Homo sapiens: one gene and its partners. The protein of the gene in region 3 interacts with the protein of the main gene of each other region in a pairwise test. Each region holds a gene or a part of one and is shown on either strand. Other genes may lie near its edges. The genes, in order: JAKMIP1, SEPTIN3 and CHRM3.

Region 1 (3,652 bases), on a different chromosome or scaffold from region 3:
ATTTAAGTTGTTTCTAATTCTTTCCATGAAAATAACACTGGGAGACTACCACTATGCATTCAATTCTCACCATGTGCCTAGGAGACAGGAGCTGCCGTGATTCTCATTTGATAGATGAGGAAACTGAGGCTGAGAACTTGCCCATTGTCATGCAACTAGCAAACAAATGTGTCATCCAGGACACTGGCCTCAGAAGGGGTCCTAACTGGGTTGAGTCTCTGCTCACCTCGGTGCTGTGACCTCGGCCGTCCGTCGTCAAGTTGTCTGAGCCTCTGTGTCTGTTTCCAACCACAGCTGAAACGCTCACGAGAGACCGAGGTTCAGCTGAAGCCCCTGGTGGAGAAGAACAAGCGGATGAACAAGAAGAATGAGGATCTGTTGCAGAGTATCCAGAGGATGGAGGAGAAAATCAAGAACCTCACGCGGGAAAACGTGGAAATGGTGAGCTGTGGACCCCTTGGGGACAGCCCTGACACTCCCTTCTCTGTCTGGGATTCTTCAGCCCTGAACCTCCCGATTCACATGTTCTGGGGCGCACCTGCTGCCCACCTCCCCACAAAGCACCAGGCACAGTGTCAGTCACAGATGTCTCGCCTTTCTCTCCACCTGTCTCACATTCACTGTGCTGTGGGTGTTTGTGCCCAGAGGGAGTCAGACAGCTGTGTCCTTAAACACATCCCCCATTCTCTCTGAGCCTCTGTTTCTTCATGCATAAAATGGGAATGAAAATATCCACACTGGAGGATCATCAAGAGGATGAAATAACAGCATGTAAAGACCTCACAGGGAACGGGCCCAGAGGACACCCAGCAAGTGAAAGCTGTTACAATGATCGCTGGCGATGCTCTGCAGAGGGGTTTCTCCTCCAGCTAGGATGCCTGGTGTTTGTGGTCAGGGCAGGCGTCTTGTAGTTGACAGTTTACAGAATGATTTCAGGTTCATTGTTCAGAGTAGTATCAACCCCCACTTCACAGCCGGGAAGACGGAGGCTCTGTCACCACACATGCTCTGCTGTCTGCACTGTAGCAGATGCAGGTGTGTGTGTGTGTGTGTGTGTGTGTGTGTAATTGCTGTTGTGTGAAGTCCTCTCCTTCCCCTGCCTTCCCCTCCCAGGTTTCTAGGCTCATTTCAAATGTCGTCTTCCACCCCCAGGCCCTGCGCATCCCTTCCTGTCAGCAGTGTGCATGGTCAGCCCCACCTTGGGCTTGGCTTTGGTCTGCCCTGTCCCCTCTTCCAGCACAGGACAAGGTGGCCACGTATTAGTCCATTTTCACACTGCTGATAAAGGCATACCTGAGACTGGGTAATTTGTAAAGAAAAAGAGGTTTAATGGACTCACAGTTTCACGTGGCTGGGGAGGCCTCACAATCATGGCAGAAAGCTAAAGGCACATCTTACTTGGCGGCAGACAAGACAGACTGAGAGCCAAGTAAAAGGGGAAAACCCTTATAAAAACATCAGAGACTTATTCACAACCACGAGAATAGTATGAGAGAAACCGCCACCATGATTCAATGATCTCCCACCTGGCCCCTCCCACAACACACGGGAGTTCTGGGAGCCGCAATTCAAGATGAGATTTGGGTGGGGACACAGCCAAACCATATCAGGCCATCATCTCTTTCATCCTCCCATCCATCCTTCTGTCCCTGCACCCCTGAGCTCCACTCCAGCACTGTCCCTAACAAACACTGTTGGCGGGTAACCCTGTGGTGGTCTGTCTCCCTGTGGCTGCAGAAAGAAAAGCTGTCAGCGCAGGCGTCTCTGAAGCGGCATACCTCCTTGAATGACCTCAGCCTGACGAGGGATGAGCAGGAGATCGAGTTCCTGAGGCTGCAGGTGCTGGAGCAGCAGCACGTCATTGACGACCTCTCACTGGTACATCTAGCACAGCTGGCGCGGCTGCCCCTGGCAGGGGTGGCACCAGCTGACATGGGTGTCAGGAACGGGTGTTGGGGCTCAGGGTGATGCTGCTGAGCTGGGTCAGGGTCAGGCAGTGCTGACTTTGGGACTCACCAAGCTCACCCTGGTGTGCACATTCCCGCTTCATTCTGCCACTAAGCAGCCTTGGCTTAAATGAGATCACTGGTACTTGGGGACAGTTTCCATGGCTACCCTTTTCTCACATCTTCTCCCTAGCTTGCTGTGATTGAGAAGCATCAGTTTTAAGGATGTCTTTTGGCCTTTAGAGACTGGGCATGATCTGTTCCAGAGAAGGCTTTTTGTTTGTTTGGTTGGTTGGTTGGTTGGTTTTTAGCTTAGCAGTTGCAGACTGTGAGTTTAGGCCCACAAACTTGAACCTTATAACCAGACCAGCACCTTGCTAAGACTGCCTGTGTGAGTTTTGGACGTGTATATGGGGCGTGCATCTATCAAAGGGGGTTGAGTATGTCCTAAGCGGTGGAGAATTGCATCCAGAGAATTCCACAGCTCTCTGTGAAAGGAACTTCGGCAACAGGCAGAGAACACCTGCAGGGAGCTTTAGTTGGATCTTAGAAGTAGAACGTGTTCTGCTCACCAAAGTGGGTGTGTGATGGTTCCATGCACTGGTTTTCAAAGAATAGAAAAGCTAGTGATCAAAATTCTAGAAAAGGCTTTGATTATAATTTTCATGTTCATTTTGCCTGCCTCCATCTCCCTCTACCTCTTTAACTTCTCTCTTTCTTCCTTTCACCCATCCATCCATCCATCCATCCACCCACCCATCTGTCCACCCATCCATCCATCCACTCACCCATTCTTTCATCCTTCCATCCACTTATCTATGCATACATCTATCTATCCATCCATCTTTGCTTCATTACACAAAAGACTCAATGCAGCTTAGGATGAAAAATATATTTCAGTGAAATAACAATAAAGTCAAAAGGTGGATAATAAACTCTCCCTGTAGCTCTCAGTTCAGAGAAGCAGCCATCACTTGGGCACTTAGAACTTCAACTAGCCATGCCTGGTGCGGATGGGCAGGCCCAGCTCCCTTTGAGAGCCAGTGGCTTTGGTTTGTGAGATGTGAGGCTGGCTGGAAATGCCAACCGTTGTGTTTCCTTCTAGGAGAGAGAACGGCTGTTGCGCTCCAAAAGGCATCGAGGGAAAAGTCTGAAACCGCCCAAGGTGAGCCTGCGATGGTGCACCTGCCCTACCTTGCCGCTGTGTCACGGATCTGCAGGGCAGATGGGTCGTGGAGTGGGGAGGTTTTACAGAGGGGTCCTGAAGCAGACACACACATCTCTGCATGCCTGATGATGAAAAGCCTGTCATCACCGTCTCTCAAAGCAACATAAATATGGCCGTGTCATGTGACCCAGTTATTGTAATTTATTCATGGAAAACTTCCTGATGTATTCTCCACTTAGGCTTCAGGGTATATTCACCCAAAATTAAAAACATAAATACTTAAACCTTTTGAAGGATTTAAGGGACATTCAGGGTTGGTTTATATGAGAGCATATCCTGTTCTAAAAAAATCAGGAGCTTTGTGTTTTTTTGGAATCATGCAGAACTGTAGTCTTTTTTGGAAAATATAGGTCTTTTGCTATTTCCTAGTAACAGTGTCTGAAGGAGCTGGGCTTATAAAATTCAAATGCCCACAGGGACCAATCTGGAATGTAAAGAGCGCACTGGAGCTGATACCAAAAAAAAAAAAAAAAGCATA
Region 2 (3,652 bases), on a different chromosome or scaffold from region 3:
CCACCCCAGCCCCCTTCTTAACCATTCAAGAGGCTGAGGTTGGTGGTATCTGGGGACTATGATGAAGAAAAGATGGCACAGCTCTGGGCTGCCTTCTTCCCACCCTCCAAACCTACCTGTGAAGACCACTGAATACATGTATCACTGTGTACATAAGAAATCACTCCTCCAACGTTAGCCTAATTGAAGGGCTAGACTAATTAGTGAGTCAACTGGCCACTAGTCCTCACTGGCATCTTCTCTTTGTTTTTTTTTTGGAGTCTCTCTCTGTCGCCCAGGCTGGAGTGCAGTGGCGTGATCTCGGCTCACTGCAAGCTCCGCCTTACGGGTTCACGCCATTCTCCTGCCTCAGCCTCCTGAGTAGCTAGGACTACAGGCACCCACCACCACGCCTGGCTAATTTTGTTTTTCTCTTTTTAGTAGAGATGGGGTTTCACTGTGTTAGCCAGGATGGTCTCGGCTAGTCTTGATCTCCTGACCTCGTGATCTGCCCGCCTCGGCCTCCCAAAGTGCTGGGATTACAGGCGTGAGCCACCGTGCCCAGCCCTCACTGGCATGTTCTATAAGCTCAGCCCTGTGCTGGATGTACAGGGTTGGGGAGGGGCGATTTGAGAGAAATGAAAAGACAATTGCTGCCTTTAAGAAATTTACAATCCAGTTGGGCGTGGTGGCTCATGCCTGTAATCCCAGCACTTTGGGAGGCAGAGGCGGGTGAATCACGAAGTCAGGAGATCAAGACCATCCTGGCTAACACGGTGAAACCCCGTCTCTACTAAAAATACAAAAAAATTAGCCGGGTGTGGTGGCGGGTGCCTGTAGTCCCAGCTACTCAGGAGGCTGAGGCAGGAGAATGGCATGAACCCGAGAGGCGGCGCTTGCAGTGAGCTGAGATCGTGCTACTGTACTCCAGCCTGGGCGACAAAGTGACACTCTATCTCAAAAAAAAAAAAAAAAAAAAAAAGAAACTTACAATTGGCTGGGGGCGGTGGCTCACGCCTGTAATCCCAGCACTTTGGGAGGCCAAGGCGGGTGGATCACCTAAGGTCAGGAGTTCGAGACCAGCCTGGCCAACATGGTGAAACCCCATTTCTACTAAAAATACAAAAATTAGCTGGGCGTGGTGGCATATGCCTGTAAGCCCAGCTACTAGGGAGGCTGAGGCAGGAGAATCACTGGAACCCGGGAGGTGGAGGTTGTAGTGAGCCAAGATCGCACCACGGTACTCCAGCCTGGGCAACAGAGCAAGACTCGGTCTCAAACAAACAAACAAACAACAAACAAACAAAACTTATAATCAAATAGAAAATGAAGAGGTCCTGGATGGTTTCCTGGAGAAGGCAAGACTTAAGTCGACCTTGAAAGAGGGCAAACAGTCTCGGAGTAGGGGGAGCCTCACCTTTCTTCCTTCCAATCAGGAATATAACATGCAGGGGTCTGAGCACTCCCCAGTGGGCTCACCTGTGCTGCTTGTGTAAATCCCAGTCTCGCGGACCCTGAGATGAGCAAGCTGGTTGCGAGGCGCCTGGGACCTGAAGTTGCACCTCCTGGCCTCTTCCTCCTCTCAGGCTAGGTTGTAATTGTATAGCTGGGGCTTGCATTTATTCACCATCTTCCTGCTGCTCAGGGTCTCAGAGTTCAGAGATGACTGTGGATTATCCAAGGCTGGATTTGGCTCTCTGACCTCAGCTCACGCACACAGGTGCACACACCCCTCTTTTCCATTACCCTGACACTTGACTACCTTGTTTCTTCTCCTCGCCTCTAGGTTCGCAAGGAGCTTGAAGTAAATGGCATTGAATTCTACCCCCAGAAGGAATTTGATGAGGATTTGGAGGATAAGACGGAGAATGACAAAATCAGGGTGGGTGCCTGGGGCACTGCTCCTCCACTGATGCCCCCTTGCGACCTCTGGGATGTGTATTGTGCACGTCCTCTGTCTGTCTTTTCCCTTTCTGTACTCCCCCCAACCTTGCCTGACCCAGACCAGAAGTGACATAGGGGGATGGGGAGGACTATGGCCCTGGACTGTGAACCCACAGAAGGGCTCCCTGTACCCAGAAAGCCTTCTATCCCCAGACCACATAAAAGCCTCCTTTTCCCCAACAAGGTCTGGCAAAAACAGTATTTGGGGTGATGGGAGGGGCAGCAGGCAGGAAGAGCATCAGGCTGGGGTCCAGGAGGATCTATGCTGTGGTCAGACCCTGCCTTAGTTTCCCCTCTATGAAATGCAGGGGTTAGACTGAGTGGCTTATAGGCTTCCCCCGCTAGAATAACTTAAAAAAATTAAATTGGCTGGGCGTGGTGACTCATGCCTGTATCCCAGCACTTTGGGAGGCCTAGGTGGGAGAATCGCTTGAGCCCAGGAGTTCACGACCAGCCTGGGCAACATGGCAAAAACTTATCTCTACAAAACCTGCAAAAATTAGCCAGGCATGGTGGCGCATGCCTGTAATCCCAGCTACTCGGGAGGCTGAGGCAGGAGAATTGCTTGAAGCCAGGAGGTGGAGGTTGCAGTGAGTTGAAATTGTGCCATTGCACTCCAGCCTGGGCAACAAGAGCGAACTCTGTCTCAAAAAAGAAAGTACAAAGCGCTCTGCAGCTGAAGGAGAGCTGATTCCTGAGGTTAACCAGTGAGGCAGTGGTACAATTGGGACTAGACCCAGGACTCTTCAATCTCAGTCGGGTGCTCTTTTCAAGAGACTGAGCCTTGCCCTTGCCATCAGTAGTATCTCTGAATGAGCATCAGAAGTGTGTGGTTCAAGGCTAGAGGACCATATGCCATCCTGCTCCTGAAAGTCCAGGTTGTTGGAGGATGACGGTGCACATGTGTCTGGTTTGTGTTTCTGCCCCGTGCAGCAGGAGAGCATGCCTTTTGCTGTGGTGGGAAGTGACAAGGAGTACCAAGTGAATGGCAAGAGGGTCCTCGGCCGAAAAACTCCATGGGGGATCATCGAAGGTAATTCACTGCATCTTCTGGAAGAACTGGTTGCTGATCAGTTATCCAGTCACCATTTATTAAGCATCTATAGGTCAAGGCACTGTCTCAGGACATATGAAATGAATGCCAGCCAGATTCTGCCCATAAGGAGCTTACAGTCTCATTGAGAAGACGATGCTCACAGGCAGGAGTAACAAGAGACTGATTTAGCACCTGACTGGGTGGCACTGACTTAGCGCATCAAAGGAGTTCAGAACATGGAGAGATTAGTAAGGCCTGGAAAAACTGGAGAAAGGTTTTCATAGGAAGGGGGATGTGATCTGACAAACTGCCGGAGGGTTGTTCAGGTGTTGCCATTTCCATTTTATTATGAATGGATGTGACCCTGGGCGGGTCTTGATGATTCTGAAAGTGGTCAAAGAATCACTTTAATGATTTCATTCAATATGATAACCCTATGAAGGGAGGAGAGCGGGTGCTCCTGTTCTCAGAGTATAAGCTACCAAAGCACCGGAAGCTCAGGTTAAAAGCCTTGTCCAAAGCACATAACTTGTTAGTGGTGAAACTTGATTTCAGACTCAGATTTTTTTTTTTTTTGAGACGGAGTCTCACTCTGTCATCCAGGCTGGAGTGCAGTGGCGCAATCTCAGCTCACTGCAACCTCTGCCTCCCAGGTTCAAGTAATTCTTCTGCCTTAGTCTCCCAAGTATCTGG
Region 3 (3,652 bases):
TGAGCAATGAATAGAGTATATTGGAGCTTTCCTGTGGCTAAGAAGAAGAAACATGTCATCCTGTTGGCATCACCAAGCACCTAACTCTTTCTAGGTAATAAAAAGTCAACGGTCACTTCAACGTAAATGTTTAAAACCACTCTTTAGTTAAATCTGATGGGAACTGAACAAAGCTCCACCATTGTGTCTGAAATCATTTTACACAGGGAAAAAAAAAAACAATCAGCATAATTGTAAGAATGATTTTTTTGGGCCCACATTCAACCAAAGAACAAGAAAGAAACAGACGATTTTCTAATATGTACACAGCAAACTACAGAATGTCATATTATCCACCTGTGAAACATCTAGTAAGCAATTGCATCTATATTTTATTTCTCAAGTTGGCCTGGCACTAATAAATATGTGAAAGCTTATTCAAGTGTCCCAGTACTTCAGCACTTCCCATCCTTTTGGAAACTCCTATCTTGCCTCCCTCCCAAAAGGGCTGTTTCTTTTATTAAAAAAAAAAAAGAAATAGAATTAAATTTGAGAAAAGGAGAAACCCTGAAATTTAACAGAACTTTGAGAGTCACTTCCAATCTCCTTAAACATGATTATCTCCTTATCCTTGTCCTTTTGTGATGCTAATAATAGCAGAAAAGGAACAAATCCAAGACTCTAGGTCTCCCTTTTTTGTTTTACTGGTTTTATTATAGAATTGTTTTTAAGCCTCTTATGGATGAAAGCTGCATTTAAATACTATCTACTGATTTTATAGAAAGGTATGTCCATTTCTTGGGTCACTTTCAGAGAAAGAAAACAAGCAAAATAGGTTCTTTTGAATATGAATAATTTAAAAGCATAATTGAAGATGTAGTGAGTATTTATAATTGGACCTTAGTTACACGTGCATTTCTCAAAGGGCTTGTCATTACAGGAGATATTCAGCACTTACCTAAGATCAAAATGTCTTCATCCCAAATTGGGAATCGAATTATTTCATGCCATATGCATGAGGTTTGCAGACATTTCAAGATTAGCCACTTTGCTTGAAAGAAGAAAATGATCAAACCTAAAATAAACTACACATGGAGAATCTCTCTCTCTCTCTCTGCCTCTCTCTCTCTCTTTCTCCCTCTTCTTCCTTCTCTCTCTCTCACAAGCACACACACACACACTCAATCTCCATTCTCCAGGCATTGCCAGATGGTTAGGAGAAGTGAGCTCTCTCTGGTCCCCTAGATCCCTCGGCTCTGCTCTCCTTTGCCCATCAGCTCCCTGTGGCCTCTATGCTAGTCCTCCCTATTCTCCTAGTCACCCTTTGCCTCTTAAGCCCAGCCTTGACTCTCTACATATTTTTCATTTCTCTTTACCCTTTAGTGTACAATAGTTGTAGACTCTGACGGAATGAAAACAAACAAGAAGCCTAAGCGTTAGACCCTGCTGTGGCTAAAGATCTAGAAGGCATATCAGTTTTCTCTGTCAGGCTTCCTACGTTGCCCTCGTGCAGGGCTCATTGCTCTGCAGAGCGCTGGAAGCCCCTTCATGTATCGAGAGAGAAGCTGGAGCACAGAGCTCTGATGCACAGTTGGCTGTTTCAGCTCTGACTCAGGGAGGAAAGAAGGATGCCAAGGCTCTGTCACAGCGGAGAAGTCTAATACCAGAGTGGCACAGAGAAGGATTCCAGGGATCAGTCAGGGTGTCCTGTACCTATCTGAGTAGAGATGATTCAAGGATGGGGACATATTCCAGGAAATTGCACAATCTTCCCCTGGCAGCTTCAGAGGACGAGTGAAAATAGTGCAGTATAGTCAAAGAAGCAATGAATTTAGGATGAGGAACCTGAAGTTTCTGGACCAGTTTGGTCACTGCTTAGTTACATGTCCTTAGGAATGCTTGTCACTTAACCTAAACTTTCTGGGTTTTATCCTCATTGCTCAAACTAAGCAACAACACCGAAGCTTCTCTAATTTGCCTTCTGATGCCAAATCGGTCAAAACTGAGGTCAGCAGCTACCATGACGAAAGTAAAATGGTATATTGGGTGAATGTTTGAAAATTTCAGATTTTATATTCTGTAAAGTTATTTACTTACTCTATTTCAACACCACAAAATCTTGAAATTTGGAAGGTAACCAAGGAAGCTTTGAAATTTGTTGGCAAACCCGGAGTAGTATGGTTTCAAATACCACTCCAACCCAGCACCTGAGGTCGGGCAAACTCACAAAATAGAGTTTCTAGGTAGCAGGTGTTTGCTTTGGTTTTGCAATAGCATTTCTCATAACAGAACTGAAACTGTATAGATTACAACACTCCAAAGTTATTTTTTTTTAACCTAAAGAACCCTACTTCTAGCACCTCCTCTGAAAGAATATTTTGCTCCAATACCACGTGCAACAAACTTATTTAGACAGTATCAACTCTAGCCCTTAATAGGTTCAAGGACAAGTTTACTGCTTCCTTTCTACACGCTTAAGTTACACTCTCTTCTCCTGTTCTGATGACTCTAAATCTTCAGCCTCTCCCAGCATTAATGTGTGAGTCAACATTGCAGACCTGAGAAAGGTTTCTAGAATGGTAACCCAATGTTCTTTAGAACTGGAGAATTCCATTTTCCTTTTCTGGCTTTAGTGTTAATGTCTGGGAAGGGAGGCTCATGATAAGAAAATAAAAATGAGAAAAGAAGATCTAGTTCATAAAATGACTATACCCCACGTAAGTTTGTAACTGCACAGTGTTTTGTTGTACGGCTCAGAAATGAGCAAGTGTTAGTATTATTAGGCACACATCACGTTCACAGCTTCGCGCAGAGACGGATAGTGTATTTGGATATATGGAAGTCATCCAAATGCGTTGCTAGAATATCAGGCCTATGTTTGTTCTGGTAGAACCACAGAGACTCACACAAAGTTCTGACCCTACCACTCTGGTCTGGGCTGAGACCACCCCAAAAAATCATCTAGAGAATCAAAGGGGCTCACATCTCAGTTGCATTCTATTTAAAAGATAAAGGGGCCATACTCTCCACTGCAAAGAAGCATTAGTAAAACTTCCCGCACCCAAATTATAATCCGGCAACCCTAGCTTCAGCTAAAAAGATTATCCCCAGAATCTAAAAGCTTACTATTGTTCTTTCTTGGAGTCCAAAATGCTTAGCAGTTCTGCAGTTCACATACAAAACTCAAAACTCTTTTTATCCTGTATTCTGTGAGTTCCTTGATGATAGTAATTGGGTCTTATTCATCACTCTGTATCCTGTGGCTCACACAGAATCTGGCAAATTGCATATATTCAATAAATGTTGAATATCTAATAACCTCCTTATTAATATAACAAATATTATCAACATTCTGTGCACATCAATGTCCCATGCTGCTACTGTAGTCAGGAGTTATTTGGCTGGGAAGTGGAAAGTGTTCACAAACATGATGCTTATCTAATAAAATATCACTGAGCAATAAGGAGAAATATTTTAAATAGATTTGAAGTTGTGAACAAATAATTTAGAGTCCAAAGAGGAAAAAGAAAATTAACTCTGTTTTTTATCCCTAGAACTCAGAAACTTTACTGGATTGGTCAACAAAGACAAACTTTTTATTGTATAAAACAGTAGAATTCATGGAAGGGATAATTCTTTTGGAACAGGCTTCTCGGTTACTTGCCTTAGTAAA

Evidence for each region.
Region 1: the proteins of CHRM3 (region 3) and JAKMIP1 interact in a two-hybrid assay, tested with the Homo sapiens proteins (one large-scale study listed by BioGRID and IntAct).
Region 2: the proteins of CHRM3 (region 3) and SEPTIN3 interact in a two-hybrid assay, tested with the Homo sapiens proteins (one large-scale study listed by BioGRID and IntAct).

The regions. Positions count from the first base shown.
Region 1 is NC_000004.12:6,078,398-6,082,049, reverse strand, and holds part of JAKMIP1 (janus kinase and microtubule-interacting protein 1), read left to right. Parts: intron 1-294; coding exon 295-441; intron 442-1,737; coding exon 1,738-1,878; intron 1,879-3,051; coding exon 3,052-3,111; intron 3,112-3,652. UniProt on the Homo sapiens protein: Associates with microtubules and may play a role in the microtubule-dependent transport of the GABA-B receptor. May play a role in JAK1 signaling and regulate microtubule cytoskeleton rearrangements.
Region 2 is NC_000022.11:41,989,808-41,993,459, forward strand, and holds part of SEPTIN3 (neuronal-specific septin-3), read left to right. Parts: intron 1-1,765; coding exon 1,766-1,861; intron 1,862-2,856; coding exon 2,857-2,956; intron 2,957-3,652. UniProt on the Homo sapiens protein: Filament-forming cytoskeletal GTPase. May play a role in cytokinesis.
Region 3 is NC_000001.11:239,911,047-239,914,698, forward strand, and holds part of CHRM3 (muscarinic acetylcholine receptor M3), read left to right. Parts: 3' UTR 1-3,652.